Linked DNA regions of Homo sapiens: region 2 is linked to region 1. Evidence: fine-mapped expression QTL. Tissue or cell type: breast. Region 1 holds a variant in brackets; the other region holds the start of a gene. All regions are shown on one strand. Distances are between the middles of the regions.

Region 1 (8,000 bases):
AAGTAATTGCAACAGAAATTGGATGACATACAGGGCTTAAAATATCACTATCTGGCCTTTCATCACAGGGGTCCCCAACTCCCGGGCTGTGGCCTGTTTGGAGCCGGGCTGCACAGCAGGAGGTGACCAGCGGGCCAGTGAACATTACCATCTGAGCCTCGCCTCCTGTCAGATCAGTGGTGGCATTAAATTATCATAGAAGCGTGGACCCTACTGTGAATTGTGCATACAAGGGATCTAGGTTGCGCTCTCCTTATGAGAATTTAACTAATGCCTGATGATCTGAGGTGGAACAGTTTCATCCCCAAACGATTCCCTGCCAAACCCAGTCTGTGGAAAAATTGTCTTCCACAAAACCAGTCCTTGGTGCTGAAAAGGTTGGGGACTGTTGCTTTTCAGAAAATGGTTACCAACCTCTAGCCTAGACCGGTGTTCAACTCTGACTACAGAGTAGACTCACCTGGAGAGCTTAAAAAAAATGCCTTGCCTAATTCTTGGGGATTCTGAATGTTAAAGCTCCCAGGTGATTCTGATTTGTAGTCAGAGTTGAGAACCACTGGTCTAGAGTCTATTGAATTTGCATAATGTTGTAGATGGTGGTGGAGAGCCTCATGTAGATGAAAGCTTAGAGACATTCCCAGTGTACAGATGGACCCAGTTCCATTCTACTGGGTGTTCACCATTTATATTGCAATAAACAGAATAGCCCTCTATTCTCATGCTTCACTTTCCCAAGATTTTGCAGGGTGAAGGTTGTTGAAAATTAATTCCATTCATATCTATCTCTCAGTCTTTTCCTTGCCTCAAATGCTTACTGGTTTTTTCCTCTCCCAACTTTTTTGGTATTTCTGTCCAAATCTGATCACCACAGGTATTTGAACAACTTGAAAAGCTCTAGTTCATTCATTCATTCATTTATTCATTCATCTCACATTGATTGGAAACCCTCTTGTGAGTAACATAGAGTCTCTGTTTCCAAGGAGGCTAGAATCTAGTGAGAGAAGACAAACCGATGATAATGTTTTGTGGTAAATGTCATAGCAGCTGTATGCACAGGGGACCATGGAAACCCAAAAGAGAGGAGGGAGCCTAACTCAGCTTGAAAGAGGAGAGCATGTAGTTATTCTTCATGCCTTAGAGAAGCGATGAGCCACTTCCAGCATTTATCTCCCAATGAAAGCATCCATTAAGTACCTTTTATTTACCAGATGCTGTCTTAAGTATAGGGAGACAAATACAATCAAGGCCAAACCTTTTCTCAGGGACACTCATAGTGTAGTGGTGGAAGACAGAGGAGTAAATCAGCAGTTACCAAATCCTGTGATGAGACAGCTGTGACTGGATGGGATGCCAGGAGGAGGGGGAGACACACACCATCATTGGCAGTGGGATTGGTGAGGGCTTCACAGAGGCGGTAACTCTAAGCTGAGTCCAAAAGGGTATTTCTATGAGAATCTAGATCTGCTTGGGTAGTGCTAATTATGGATTTAAAGTCAGAAGGCCTAGGTTGAGATAACCAGCTCTCTCACTGGCTGGCTTTTTGATCTTGGCAAATGACTTAATCTTTTTTGAGTCTCAGTTCTCCCATCTGTATAGTGGAAATCATTTACTTACTTAACAAATGTTTATCAAGTGCTAACTGTGCAAGGCAGTAATATACCAGGTGCTGAGGATACGCTGGTGAGTGGAGCCAGGCACACTTTCCGTCCTAATGGACTAGCCTAGTTGGCAGAAGTGAGGTTTAGAGTTTAATCATTAATTTATACAAATGTAATTACAAACTCTGCCAAATGTCGTGAAGGAAAAGTGATTGTTGAGTCCTCTCTTTCTCTTACCCACCACATCTAATCTGTTAGCAAACCCTGTGGGCTCTACCCTCTCATCCCCATCATCAAGTCTTCCCTCATCTGCATCTCTTGCCTGGCTTTTGCAGTGTTCTCCAGTTGTTCTCTCTGCTCCTGTCCTTGCTTTCCTGTAGTTTATTCTAACACTTTAGATAGAATGATCCTGTTGGAACATGGTTAGGTTATATCATGCTTTTGCCCAAAACCCTCTCATGGCTTGCCATCTCAGAAAAAAAGCACAAGTCTTTCAGTGGCCTACAAGGTCCTATACTCTTTGCTGTGACTCTGTCTGTCCCATTTCTTCTTTCCTGGTGTTATTCTCTGCCTTCTTTACTCTGCTCCAGCCACAATAGCCTCCTTGCTGTTCCTGGAACTTGCCCACCATACTGCTTCTTCAGGGCTGTTTGCTTGTTAGACTTTTTGCCTGGAATGCTGTTTCCCAGGCATTCTTCTGGCCTGCTTACTCTCTTGCCTTCCTTGTCTAATTAATTCACTGTTGGGTTAGCACATAATAGGGCTTCCATAAATATATGCCAGATAAATGAATAGATTTGCATAGATAGCTAAAGGAGAAAAGTATTTGTTAACTTAGAAACGGAATAAAGGAAGAGTGTACTAGGTGGGTGGGATTTCACATGCAAAGGCCCTCTGGTAGGGCAGAGCATGGTGTGTTCAAGTGACTGAAATAATACCAGTGTGGCTAGAGCACACTAGTGGAGTGGAGGCAGGGTGAAAGATTAATGGAGTAGGGAGTGGGAGGTAAAAAAATGGAGCTGTAAGAGAACTCCTTTGAGAAGTTCAGCCAGTGAAGAAGGGAGGGGAAAGAGATAATACTTACCGGAAGGGATGTGGGGCTGAAGGAGGTTTGGGATGTTGTTTCTGCTTGTGAAATGAAACAAGACTGTGTGTAGAAATGCTTTCTGTGAAGGGCTGTGTGTATGTAAACTGTTTTGCTGTTGTCTCCAGAGCATCTGTGGTTGTACCAGAAGAAAAGATGTCAGATGTGTACAGTATTTTGCAGAGCATCCCCCAAAGACAGATTGAAGAAATGCAGAGACAGGTAAGAGGCCAAGTCTTGGGGAGGTGACATGGGTGGTACCGAAATGGTGGCCTTGACTGGATACAGAGGGACAGGAGCTGAATGCCTGAGTGGGGTTTACTTCCTCCACTAGATCAACTAGCCAAACTGAAACGATAGGAAATTAATGTTAGGTGAGTTGCATCAAATAAGGTTTGAAATAATAACTCTCAGAGAACTGTGCAGAGGTAAGCCTACTGCAATTTTAGGGTCTTACCATAGCAGATGCAAAGCTGAAGCTCTTTGGAGGGTTTGTAGTCACAGCAGGTGATAGTCGTAGTGACTAAGACAGCCATGGAAGCTGGACCATTTCAGGGCAATACTTCTGTGTAGCTATTGACCATGATACTATTGC[T/G]GCACAAACTAGCCCAGCTTCCCAGTTCAGTCATCCTTTGTAATTCGGGAATCCTTCCCTCTCTTCTGGAACATTTGCCATTTTCCTGCCTCTCTTTCCAAATTTCTCTTCTACCTTCTGACACCCCATTCCCTAGGCTGATCTCTGACTGTCTCATACTCCACTTGATGTCCCACTGAGTCCTGCTTCCGTTTCTTTGTCCTGAAGGACATTTAATTGGGTTTAAATATCAAGCAAGGTGAAAAAGTTAAGAAGACTATCCCAAAAATTTTTAATGGACTTTTAAAAAGGTTTAATCTTTGTCAAAATCACCGATGTGGGAGAAGAGCAGGAAAAGAGGCTTGGCGGATTCTCAGCAGTACGTGCGTAAGTGTCCCATGCCACCCCCTGCTGTTAGTTCGGCACCCTCAGCCTCAGGCAGAGAGCCTGCATTTGGCCATGTCCCAAGAACAGGCCACAGGCTTCTGTCTGGATGGGGACAGCGCATCTGCCTGGCTGTGTGGGGAGGGGATCTGAGGTTCTGACTGTTACTTAAAGTTTCACTTTGACCTCCTGCTTGAACCCCACTCTTCCCCTGACTTGGGGCTCTGCAGTGTGACTCAGGTTTTTCTCAGCTGATTTAGGAGGCAGCTCTCTTGAGTCTATAGCATCAGTTACCACTTCTTCCTTTACTTTTCAGCTTCCACATTCTGATGCTGTTATCTTGTCTTTCATTCTCTTTTTCTTAGGGGATACATACCTTAATTTAGAAAATTCCCCTTAATTGTCATTTTAGAGTTTTAGGAGAGTGAGGTTAGTGGATGTGTTCAGTCCACCCTCTTTATTATGATAGTGAACTTCTTATCGACACAGATTAAGTCTGTAGGTTCTTACCTCAGATTGCCTGGCTTGGGTATCAGCTCTGTGGGTTACAAACTCTGTACCCTTAGGTAAGGATCTGCCTTCTCTGGGCCTCAGTGACCTCATCTGTGCAATATTTTGGCATTCTGGTTTGAACGCAAATCGCAGGTTAGTTTTAGCTTCCCTGCAGTTTATTTATAGCATCCTCCTGTTCGTTTTAAGTTTCTGGGTTTCCCAATTGTTATTTAACCACTGATTTCATCTAAGTTTTAGTGAATCAGAAAATCAGTCCAGAGATCTCTAGATTTTTTATCTAAACCTGTGGTTCCTAAAACTTGTGTAGAAGAAAATGCCCCTTGAGGAGTCATAATGTTTGTGCATTTTGTGTTACCTTTTCTTTCCCCGCCGAGGGGTCTCACTCTGTAGTGCAGGCTGGAGTGCAGTGGCATGATCTTGGCTCACTGCAACCTCTGCCGCCAGGGTTCTAGTGATTCTCCTGCCTTAGCCTCCCGAGTAGCTGGGACTACAGGCACGCGCCACCATGCCCGGCTAATTTTGGTACTTTCAGTAGAGACAGGATTTCACCATGTTGGCCAGGCTGGTCGAACTCTTGACCCCAAGTGATCCGCCCGCCTCGGCTTCCCAAAATGCTGGGATTATAGGCGTGAGCCACCACACCTGGCCCACTTTGTGTTACTTTTTATGGAATCTTGATTTATTAGTAAAACTAAATATAGAATTATAGGCTAAAGCAGAGACTATTTTATACTAGAATCTAGTCTAGAAAGGGTAAGAAAAAACTGGGGAGGTTAAAATGCACAAATTCTATCCAGTTTCTTCTCCACCCCTCCACCCTGAAGCTGTGAAAGAGAATCATTTGGTTTTTGGAGTGGCGTCTACTGCCAGCTCACAGAGGACTGTTGCCCATAGGAGGGTGGTGTGGGAACCACAGGTCTGAGATAAGCTTGGTCATTTTCAGTGTTGGCTCAGAATCATAGAACAGTTGAGAAGGAATGAATGCTGGTCATTTAAAACAGCGTACTTTTGGGTTATTTGGGTTCAAAGAGACACACTGAGTCAAAAGACTTGGGTTTGATCCCTGGCTCTGTCCGTTTGATTGCATGACCATGGTAAGTCCCCAAGCTCCCTAGGCTTCCATTTCCTCATTTATGAAATGAAGGGGTTGGCTAAATAATCTCTCATGTTCCATGTGGCTGTTAAAAAACTCTATGAAATGCTTATCCCTACCAAGAACATTACTCTCCTTGACAACATTAATAATTTAGTGGTCATCTCTTCTCCCCTTGAACAGCTCTAGTCACAAGGGCCACTTGCCTCCTCTAGTGGTGAACAGTCCACTATGCCAGCTTAAAAAGAAAGGTGGTCTTGGCACTTTCCCGGCCCCCTTTCTAACTCCCTTTTCCGCTTTCTGACGGCCTCTTTCCCTGTGCTGCTTTCGGACCATCTAAAGCTCTCCACTGCGGCAACTCACTAGTCCCACTCCCCTTTCTCTGAGTAATCCATGTTCCCAAAATGACCTCTTTTCTTTTCCTAACCCCACATTTCTAGAGTGGGCTGATCTCAATTAGATATGAGATTATCTGGTTAAAGTAATTTCCAGTTAGGTATAAAGGATGACTAGGTTTCTTCAACTACTACTAGATTCCAATAGCACCCCTCCCCTCAGTTGTGATCACCAAAAATGTCTCTAGAACATTGCTTGCCAATTGTCCCCTTTGGGGTTGGGGGTGGAGGGCAAGCAAAATTGCTTTAACTGAGAACCACTGTTCTCTATAGATAGTTAATGTCTCATCTCTCTAAAATTAGAGTTCTTTGGTTCTATAACAAAATATACTGTTTCCAAAACATTCTTGTCATTTTGCTTTCTGTTTACCTTCTATTGATTTAACCTGACCTTGGCAGGAGTAATTAAAAAAATGGTAAAACACCTGATTCTGAAAAGTTCTTATACCTTAGTGAATTCTCTTTAGGGAGGTCAGAGGTGGGTCTTTTTGCAAGACAGGCATCCACTTTTAGGGGAAAGCCTATTGTATCAGTAGTTGATACCTTGGAGCCCCTAGATGATGTATCAGAATGAACTGAGGGTGAGGAACAGAGTCTGATTTGCTTGCTGAGAAACTCCAGACTAGCTTAATGGAGCTGCATTGGACAGTTGTAGCCAGCAGAGGTCTCCATCCACTTTTAATTAACTCATTTTCCCTCTGAGTATTTAAATCTTTCCAAGAAATCCTAAATGCCATGAGCCACTCTGGTGCTTCACACTGACATCTTCCTGATAGCTGCTCTCTAGAGACCATTTCTTTCAGATGAAGAAGAAGAAAGAAAATCCTGCTTAGCACAGGATTTTACTCTCCCTAGATGCAATAGAGCTAAAGTTTCTGATTTGGCCCCAGAAATGTGGGGTAGGGTCTTGGTGAGGAAGGTATTGGAGCAACATTTTGCAGCTTAGAGTTTAGGATCAGAAAGGCTACAATCTGACAGATGTCTAAAGTGGTGAAAGTCCTTGTTGTGACGGGAATTTGTGTGTACCAAGGGAGAAAGTCATACTACCTGACAAAGAAAGGAAATTAAATTCCCTTAGATGTGATAGTAGCAGCCAAAAAGTTAACTACAAGGCTAGAGCCTAATGTAAGTAACAGCTATAGTTAGACTAAGACTTTTGAAAAAAAGTACAACCTGTGTCTCTGGTATCTATTCCTGAAGGCCACCAGTGAGCAGTGCTGCCACACGTGGCATTGGGCAGACTACTGGGGGCTTATAGGGCTTTTTGTGGGGAAGTTAAAAAACAGTTCCTTAAGTCAGTAGAAGACAGTAGTTGTAACAGTATAAAGCTGACTTCTCAGTTGGCCTTTTATTGTCCTGTGAGCTAATGATTAACTAGTTAATTTATTGAATCCCTAATGTTTTTTGGTGGGGGGAGAGATTATAGGAGATAATAAAAAAAATCTTTGATCCCCATTCACAAAGGGCTTGTGTTGGGGATATATGGGTATAAGCATAAAGAAAGTTGAGAAGATGATGCCGATATTTCTAGGTACATTATGGGTCATTAAGGGTCTGAAATGGAAGGGAGAAAGTTGGGGCTAAAGCTGTCAGGATGAATTTCTTGGAGATGTAGAATCTGAGGTAGGCCTTGAGATGGGAGTTCCATCAGCCATCTTTCTTATGTTGGAAGGCAGGCAGAAGTATGCAGCTAAATATTTTTCTGTAGTCAAATGGAACATTCATATTCCCAGTCTCCCCTGAATCACAAAGAAAAAGTACACAATCTGGGATCTCAGAAGGCTGGATAGACACTAGACTGTATCGTTAGAAATGTTTGTATGGATAGGGAGGAAGGTGTAAATGGATCCCCAGTTTATCTGTTGAGTAGAATTTCCAAACATTCTTTTATTGGTCAGTGGCTCCACCAGCAGTGACCTCTAACCTCAGCCACACTAGGAGGTGGAAGTCAGGAGCCTGACTTGCCTTTGAACTCTTCTTTGTACTCAATTGACTAGAAGCCTTTGAGGTGGCAGAAACATTCAGCATCTTCTTTTCTCTCTAGCCTTTAACACTTGGGGTACATTAAAATACCAGTTTCTTTTCAGTCTATTACACTGATCCATCTCAATGTGCCTTCATATTTTTCTATTAAGCAAACCAAATATTGGTGCTGCAGAGAAGTACTTGAAGATGTAGTGGGCTGATTAGGAAAAAGACAAAACAATTTTATTTAAGAAAATAAAACCTCTAGACTATAGTTGGGCCTAGTAGTGATCAAGAAGAGAGTAGAAGAGGCTACAGAACAGTAAATGTGTGCATACACCGAAGTTCCTGTACTTTATAGGAGAGCCCCTATCAGGGGCCTCTTATTTTATCC
Region 2 (8,174 bases), 36 kb before region 1:
TGGAAAATTCTTAGCTATCATCTCCTTGGATATTACCTTCACCTCCTTTTCTCTATTCCCTCCTTTTAGATATGTGCCATTTTCTTCATCTCTCCTCTCCCTCTCTTAACTTCTCTTTCCTATATTTAATTCGTTTCCTGTCTTTCAGATCGATCGTTGTTGTTTCTAACCTACTATTTAACTTATGCATTGACTTTTCAATTTCAATGTTTATATTTAGTACATTTTCAGTCTCCTTGGTCTTTTAAAAATATAACATCTTATTTCTTTGTAATGTTTTACATTTCATTTTAAGTCTTTGAGTGGTATAAACATACTTGTTTTATATTTATGTATCATAATTCAATTATATGTAGTTCTTGGGGGTTAAATTTCTGCTGTTTGTGATTTCTGGTGGTTTGTTTTCTCATATGCTTTATAGTTCTGCATTGTGAGTTTACATTTGTCAGGGTTTTATTTGTCAGAATCCTAGGTAGCTTGTGTTGAGGATGTGGGTCTCCAGAGGGGATTTATGTTTCCTTCTGTTGGATGTCTTTGGGTGCTACCAACCTGGGAATACTGTATGTTACTATCCTGGCTTGGAGCTTCCTAGACCATGCTGGTGGTATAAATTCAAACCCCAGATGGTCATAAAGCTTGATTGCTATGAACTGAATGTTCATCCCCTCCCACACCTCCTTCATATGTTGAAGTCCTAATCCCCAGTGTGATGATTATTGGAGGTGGGGCCTTTGGGATGTAATTAGGTCTTGAGGGTGGAATCCTCATGAGTAGGATTAGTGCCCTGACAAGAAGAGACACAGAAAGGTCTTTTTCTCCACCATATGAGAATATAGCAAGAAGGTAACCCTCTGCAAACCAGAAAAAGAGCCCTCATCAGGAACCAAATTGGCCAGCACCTTGATCTTGGACTTCCTAGCCTCTAGAGCTGGGAGAAATAAATTCCTGTTGTTTAAGCCACCCAGTCTGTGGTATTTTTGTTATAGCAGCCCGAACTGACTAAGATATGCGTGTTAAAGATCATCAGTGAGACTCTCTTCTTTTTCCATTCCCTGGACAAGACAGGTAAGTTTCTTTGGTGGATGTTGAGCAAATTTTTTCCAGTATTCCCTGTTGGGTGTAATTCTTTAAGATCCTAGCTTTATGGGTTTCTTTGTATCAGCTTCCTGCCTTGTATGCCCAAGATAGTTGTAGCTTCAATGTCATTTCTATTATTTAAGCTTCATTTTTGACTTTGGATGTTTTCCTTCCTTTTTTTTGTGCGTAAGCTCAGCTATTCACTTGAGAAGGTATTCCTTATATTTCACCTGGTTAGGTGTTTTTTAGCCTACCATGCTGCCTGCCAGTGCTGTTTTAAGCTGAGCCAACCTAAGGTCCCACAGATCAATTATATTATGGAGCCCTTTTCTTTAGAGAATATGCCTTTTTCCATTCTTGGATATCTCTGTTACAGTAGACTCTTGAATAATGTGGGGGTTGGGGTGCCAATCCCCTAAGCAGTTGAAAAATGATGTATAACTTTTGACTCCCCCAAAACTTAACTACTAATAGCCTTCTGTTGACTGGACACCTTACTGATAATGTAAATAGTCTATTAAACATATTTTATATGTTATATATATTAAATACTGTATTCTTACAATAAAGTAAGCAAGAGAAAAGAAAATGTTATTAAGAAAGTCAGGAGGAAGAAAAATATATTTACTATTCATTAAGTGGAAGTCATAACGATCTTCATCCTCCTCATCTTCATGTTGTGTAGGCCAAGGAGGAGAAGGAAGGGGGGTTGGTCTCACTGTCTCAGGAGTGGCAGAGGCAGAATAGGTAGCAGAGGTGGAAAGAGAAGCTGGAGAGGCAGGCACACTTGGTGTAACTTTTGTTGAAAAAAAATCTGCACAGCAGTGGATCTGCAAAGTTTAAACCTGTGTTGTTCAAGAATCAACTGTATTTAGAGGAAGTGCTAAATATGGGATTCAACCCTACACCAGCTCTTTCTCCTAATTGGAAACTCACTTTCCCCTGATGACACTATTTTCCACGAAAGCCATTCCCTTTCTAATCCTGACTTTCATATTTCCTGACTCACTGGGTAAGGGGGTATCTGTGTAATCTTTGCTTTGCCCTGTAACTTCAAATTCAGTAAAGCAGTATCTTTCTACAACCTCTCCTCCTTCAACCACCAGCTACTAAGACGCTTTTCTGCCTTCTCAGAAACTTCAGGTCCTGGCTTATAATTTATTTCCCACTCCTCCCTGAAGTCATCCTTGGATACTTTCGCATCATGTAGCTTCTAATTTCACATCTTCTATATTTTCCCACCTCCCTCACTTGCATGGTTTCTATGCCTAGAAATGTAGCCACACTGGATTGAAAAACACTTGCTCTTTCTGATTGCTTTTCCTTCTTTATTTTTATTTATTACTCTTTTTTTTTGCAGAGATGGGGGTCTCACTTTTTTGCCTAGGCTGGTATTGAACTTGTGGTCTCAAGTGATCCTCCTGCCTCGGCCTCCCAAAGTGCTGGGGTTACAGATGTGAGCCATTCTGCCCAGCTGCTTTTCCTTCTTTAACACATGCTCATGACTTTCTTTCTCTGCCTTGAATGCCCTTTTCACCTCTCTGCTTGTCAAAATACTAAGTGTCCTCCAGGATAAACAAAGATATCAACTGTTGATTGAACTCTTCCTAGATTTTTCCAACTGGATGTCACCTCTTTTTTTTTTTTGAATTCTGTAGCATTTTGTTTATATGCTTCTATGCCACTTTTTACCTTCTCCTTTGAATAATCTTATTGTCTTATTTCTAGTTAGCTCCTCCCAGTGTCTAGGCATCCTTTCTCCATTCAACAACTATTTATTGAGCAATTAACTATATGCCAGGCATTAGGCAAGTTTAAGGTTATAAAAAATGAAGAAGATAGGCAGCATTGTGTGAGGCTGTGCCTCACACAGTTCTTTAACACGGCAAATTCTCATTTTATAAAAGAACAAAGGATTAATTAAAAACATACATGTTTAAAATACAGATAAATATGGAGAAGAAAAAAAGAGGCCACAATCTTCCAGACCAGATAGCTATTGTTGACTTATTTCAAAAAGTGAAAACAATATTCCCTGGGATAAGATAAATTTGGATACAGTTCCAGTGGTGATTGTCACTGCTCTCCACCCATCCAGTTCTCAAATGGGGTGGGTGTGTGCTACATTTTGTATCATTTGCAGGGGGGATTTGATTTGGAAAGCAGAGCAATGCCCCCTTGGATGTGGGGAAGCAGAACATGAGTGTCCCATCCCCAGAATGTCCTCATCCCAATCTCCCTAGATCTGTGACAAGCAGGCATTAACTCACAAAAATATCCCTGGAATCGAGGTTGCTGCCGGAAGCCTCTGTAGGTATCTAGTCTCAGAATCATCACTTTGAATATTTAAGCTATCAGTGACAACTTCCACCAGATGGCGCCAAAGTACATCTGGGACCAGAAGGGATTTGGATCCTGTAGCCAGACCCACAACTCTACCAAACCAACATCGCAGGCCCAGGGGTCATTTCATTAACCTCTCAATAACATCGCTCTGAATTTTAATTTAATTTTTTAGTTTCCACTTACTGCTTTATGACAGCGGTTTTAGTGTGCATGGATAGGGCTAAATCATGTAAATAATAGAGAAAGATACAAAACAAAAATGCGTTTTTTTTTTTTTTTTTTGGAGACAGGGTCTTGCTCTATCACCCAGGCTGGAGTGCAGTGGCACGACCACGGCCCACTGCAGCCTTGACCTCCTGGGCTCAAGCAATCTTCCTGCCTCTGCCTCCTAAGTAGTTGGGACTACAAGCGTGTGCTACGATGCCTAGTTAACTTTTTATTTTTTGTAGAGATGGGGTCTTGCTCTGCTGCCCAGGCTGGTCTCAAACTCTTGGGCTCAAGCGATCCTCTCGTTTAGGCCTCCCCAAATGCTGGAATTACAGGCGTGAGCCACCTTTCCTCGCCATAAATGCTTCCATTTCCGCCTCGACAACTACTCCACCTGAAGCTGTTCATTTCTTCTTGCATTCCTTCCAGAAAAAAGTTATACACATGCCTGAATATAAGCACCTACTTTATATATTTCTCCCTCTTGTTTTTGCATATGCATAGTTTACCTAAAAGTGACTTGCCCGCTGTTTTGGACTACGCTTTGATCTTAACTAATATCTTGGAGATATTTCCTTACCCAAATATATTGCACTATCTCACATTACTCAAATCAATCAAATTCCATAATTTATTTCGATTGTGTCTAGCATTTCGCTATGATTAGAAAGAATGCTGTCATGGAACTTTTTGACAAACATTGTTGAGAATATCCATAGGGCAAACTCCGTACAGAGAGCTTGTTGGAATGAAGGGTACCAGCATTTTCCGTTTGATGGATAGTACCAAATTGCCCTCCAGGAATGTTATACGCTCACCAGAACTGATTATAATAAAACGTCTACATATTTGTTAGTTTTATAAGCAACGCGTGGTGTCTCGTTTGGGTTTAAGGATTCTTTAATTATGAATGAGGCTGTCTGAGCATTTCACTGCGGAGCCTGAGCGCGCCTGCCTGGGAAAACACTGCAGCGGTGCTCGGACTCCTCCTGTCCAGCAGGAGGCGCGGCCCGGCAGCTCCCGCATGCGCAGTGCGCTCGGTGTCAGACGGCCCGGATCCCGGTTACCGGCCCCTCGCTCGCTGCTCGCCAGCCCAGACTCGGCCCTGGCAGTGGCGGCTGGCGATTCGGACCGATCCGACCTGGGCGGAGGTGGCCCGCGCCCCGCGGCATGAGCCGGTGACCAAGCTCGGGGCCGAGCGGGAGGCAGCCGTGGCCGAGGTAAGCGCGGCTCTCCAGGGCGGCGGCCGGGCGGGCGCTGAAGCGAGGGCTCGGGCCTCCGGGGGCCGCTGCTGGGTCGGGACAAGGGCCGAGGGAGCGCGGCCGCGCGGAGGCTCCGTGGAGGCCCGTGGGCTGCGAGAGGCCACCCCCAGCCCCGCCGGGGCTGTGACAATGACTGCCCGCTTTTGGAGCGCTCCGATTTCCACTCCTGCTTCTCCTTCTCCTCCGGCGGCGGCCGCGCTTTCAGCATCTTGGTACCCACCTGTTCTCCTAGCCAACCTTCGCCCCCAGTCCGCTCCTTCCTTTCCTCCTGCGACCCGCCCTCCGCCCTCCGCCGTGACCCCTCCCTTCCTGCTGCCACCTTCCCGCCAGCCACAGGGATCTGATTCCTCCCAGGGGGATGTCCTGCGCCTCAGGGTCCGGTGGTGGCCTGCGGCATCCCTTGCGGTGCCAGAAGCCGTGGGACGAGGTAGGGAAGGGGCCAGGGGCATGTTATGCCGGGGACTGGGTGGTCGGGGGCGTGTTAGGCCGGGGACTGGGTGACCGGGAACTAGATGGCCGGGGGCGTGTTAGGCCGGGGACTGGGTGGCCGGGGTCATGTTGGGCCAGGCACTAGGTGGCTGGGGGCGTGTTAGGCAGGGGACTGGGTGGCCGGGGGCCTGTCAGGACGGGGCAGGAGTATGTTAGACTGCGGACTAGATTGCTGGTGGCATGTTAGGCCAGGGACTAGGTGGCCCGGGGGTGTGTCGGGCCGGGGCCAGGGGCATGTTAGTCTCGGGACTAGGTGGCCAGAAGCACACTGGCTCTGGGCTTCAACTTGAAGTCCAGAGGTGTTTGGGGCTTTGTTACATTCGGTGGGAACCAGATCTAAACACACAATTTTGAGAATCAAAGAATTGCTTGGTGTTACTGATTGGGCAATGCTAATCTAGAAAGGTTCTTGACTTATTTATGTGAAGATATGGTCTTGAAATATGTACATTTAAATTCTTGTAAGTCTTAACTTCTTGTAAGTCAGGTAAGTGCTCTATGTACTTTAACTGGACTTAGTTTGTAACTTTCAGAACTCAAAGGCTATTCACTGTAATAAAATAGATGATTCAGTTTCCATCATTCACTTTCCCCGACTTCCTGGTTGCATGTGAGGGTATGAATGGATAATCAGTTTTGGGGCCAGACTGCCATGCTGTGAATCCTAGCTTTGGCATTTCCAGTTGTGTAATATTGGGCCAGGTACTTAAACTTTCTGTTGTACTATCCCCATCTGTAAAATGAGGGTAATAATAGCTTGGCTTATAGTGCTGTTATGAAGATTAAATAAGTTAACACTATAAAGTGCTTAAAACAGACCCTGGCATGTAGTAAGTGCTTAGTAAGATTTACATATTAATTATGTAATGACACACATTGTCTTATGGTATAATTCCCATGATTAAAAGGGCATTGTTTTTAATTGAAAATAATTTTTAGGGGCATTTAGCCATAACATAACTTTAATTATAAAGAATCCTATCAAGTAAGGCAATGAATTGTGGCTTTTTTTGCTTTTGCTTATATTTGGTTCCTCTGTTTTTCGGAATGGTTGGGTTAAGATCCAGTGTGGCAGTGGCCCCAGGAGTTCAGCTGTAAGGCCCTTTCTAAAAAGGTTAAGAAGAGGCCAGGCGCGGTGGCTCACGCCTGTAATCCCAACACTTTGGGAGGCCGAGGTGGGTGGATCACTTGAGGCCAGGAGTTCAAGACCAGCTGGCCAACATGATGAAAACTTGTCTCTACTAAAAATACAAAAAAATTAGCTGGGTGTGGTAGCACACGCTTGTAATCCCAGCTACTTGGGAGGCTGAGGTTGTAGTGAGTTGAGATTGTGCCACTGCACTCCAGCCTGAGTGACAGAGCAAGACTCCATCTCAAAAAATAAATAAATAAATAAATAAATAAATAAATAAATAAAATAAAAATAAAAAGGTTGAAACGACAAGAGACTGTGACTGAAAACATTGGACTAAGTGGATTGGCTATAACCTGAAGCACCAAGGAAAGATTATTCAGGCAAATTTTAGGAATAAATAATTCCAGGAACAGAAAATGCATCTCATCCTCACAATAGGTTGGGGTTAAAAGACTTTTCCAGTGACTCAGTGCTTGACAGCTAGCCAGATGATTCCAGTGTTTTGCAGGGGCAGGTTTGATGTGTTTCAAGGTGATAAAGTTTGTAGGGCTGAAATTCTTGTTTTGATCCAGGTTATGGTATTGTATGGAATAAACCTTCATTAGTAGAAGATTCCTTTCAGTCTGTCATCTTCCGGGGATTTTAACTTCTTGGTGGTAGGGAGCAGTCTCACTGGACAGAGAGATTATGACTTGTTTCCTCGGATGATGGTTTGGAGATACTCCATCTCTCTGTGCTTTGGCATGTGAAAACTGTTTTGGGAGGATTGGTTCTGTGTGTTACAGGGGTGAGGTTGGAGTGTCCTGAGTCGGGAGCACTGTCACTTCAGTCTAGGCTGGCAGTTTTACAAAAGGGGTCCAGTATAGCACAGGTTTATAAAGGCAGGGGTGCAGCCTGGGCACGGTGGCTCAATCCTGTAATCTCAGCACTTTGGGAGGCTGAGGTAGGTGGATTACCTGAGGTCAGGAGTTCAAGACGAGCCTGGCCAACTTGGCAAAACTCCGTCTCTACTAAAAAATACAAAAAATTAGCCGGGGATGGTGGTGGGCGCCTGTAATCCCAGTGACTTGGGAGGCTGAGGCACGAGAATCGCTTGAACCCAGGAGGCAGAGGTTGCAGTGAGCCGAGATGACACCACTGCACTCCAGCCTGGGCAACAGAGAGAGATTCTGTCTCAAAAAAAAAAAAAAAAAAGCAGGGGTGGGGAAAGTAATGGTGCTCTTTGGATGTGTTTGCATATGGTGGGTGGTGGGAGAGGAGGGTGTTCAGGGGTGGGTACAGAAAATTCAGAGTCTATGGAAATATCTAGCCATTCCCCCTCCTCCTTTGGAAATTCCTTCCTATTTAGGAAAGATAATAGTCAGAGGCCGTCACATATAATAACTCAAAACTTGGATGCTAAACCGTGTGCACCTATGGAACTGGGAAGGATACAGACATTTGTTCGTTCAACAAATATTTATGTTTATATTAAATATGTTCTATTTTCTTTTTTCTCCTTGGAGACAGGGTCTCCATTGTCGCCCAGACTGGAGTACAGTGACGCAGTCATGGCTCACTGCAGCCTCAACCTCCCGGGTTCAAGAAACCCTCCCACCTCAGCCTCCCAAGTAGCTGGGAGTGTAGTCGTGCACCACCACACCTGGCTAATTTTTGGG

What was found. PIP is the estimated chance that this variant, and not a neighbour inherited with it, causes the effect.
Region 2: it holds the start of EXT2, and the variant in region 1 is fine-mapped to the expression of EXT2 in breast (GTEx, PIP 0.98).

Annotation. Positions count from the first base shown.
Region 1 is chr11:44,127,235-44,135,234 of GRCh38, forward strand. EXT2 (exostosin glycosyltransferase 2) reads left to right here. Exons shown (of 14, transcript NM_207122.2): 7 at 2,811-2,904. Among named protein-coding and RNA genes, the nearest start is that of EXT2, 36 kb to the left of the region's middle. The variant T/G (reference allele first, on the strand shown) is at 3,278.
Region 2 is chr11:44,091,003-44,099,176 of GRCh38, forward strand. It overlaps EXT2 (exostosin glycosyltransferase 2), which reads left to right and starts at 4,676. Exons shown (of 14, transcript NM_207122.2): 1 at 4,676-4,850. RefSeq lists a silencer at 4,543-5,162 and an enhancer at 5,583-5,632.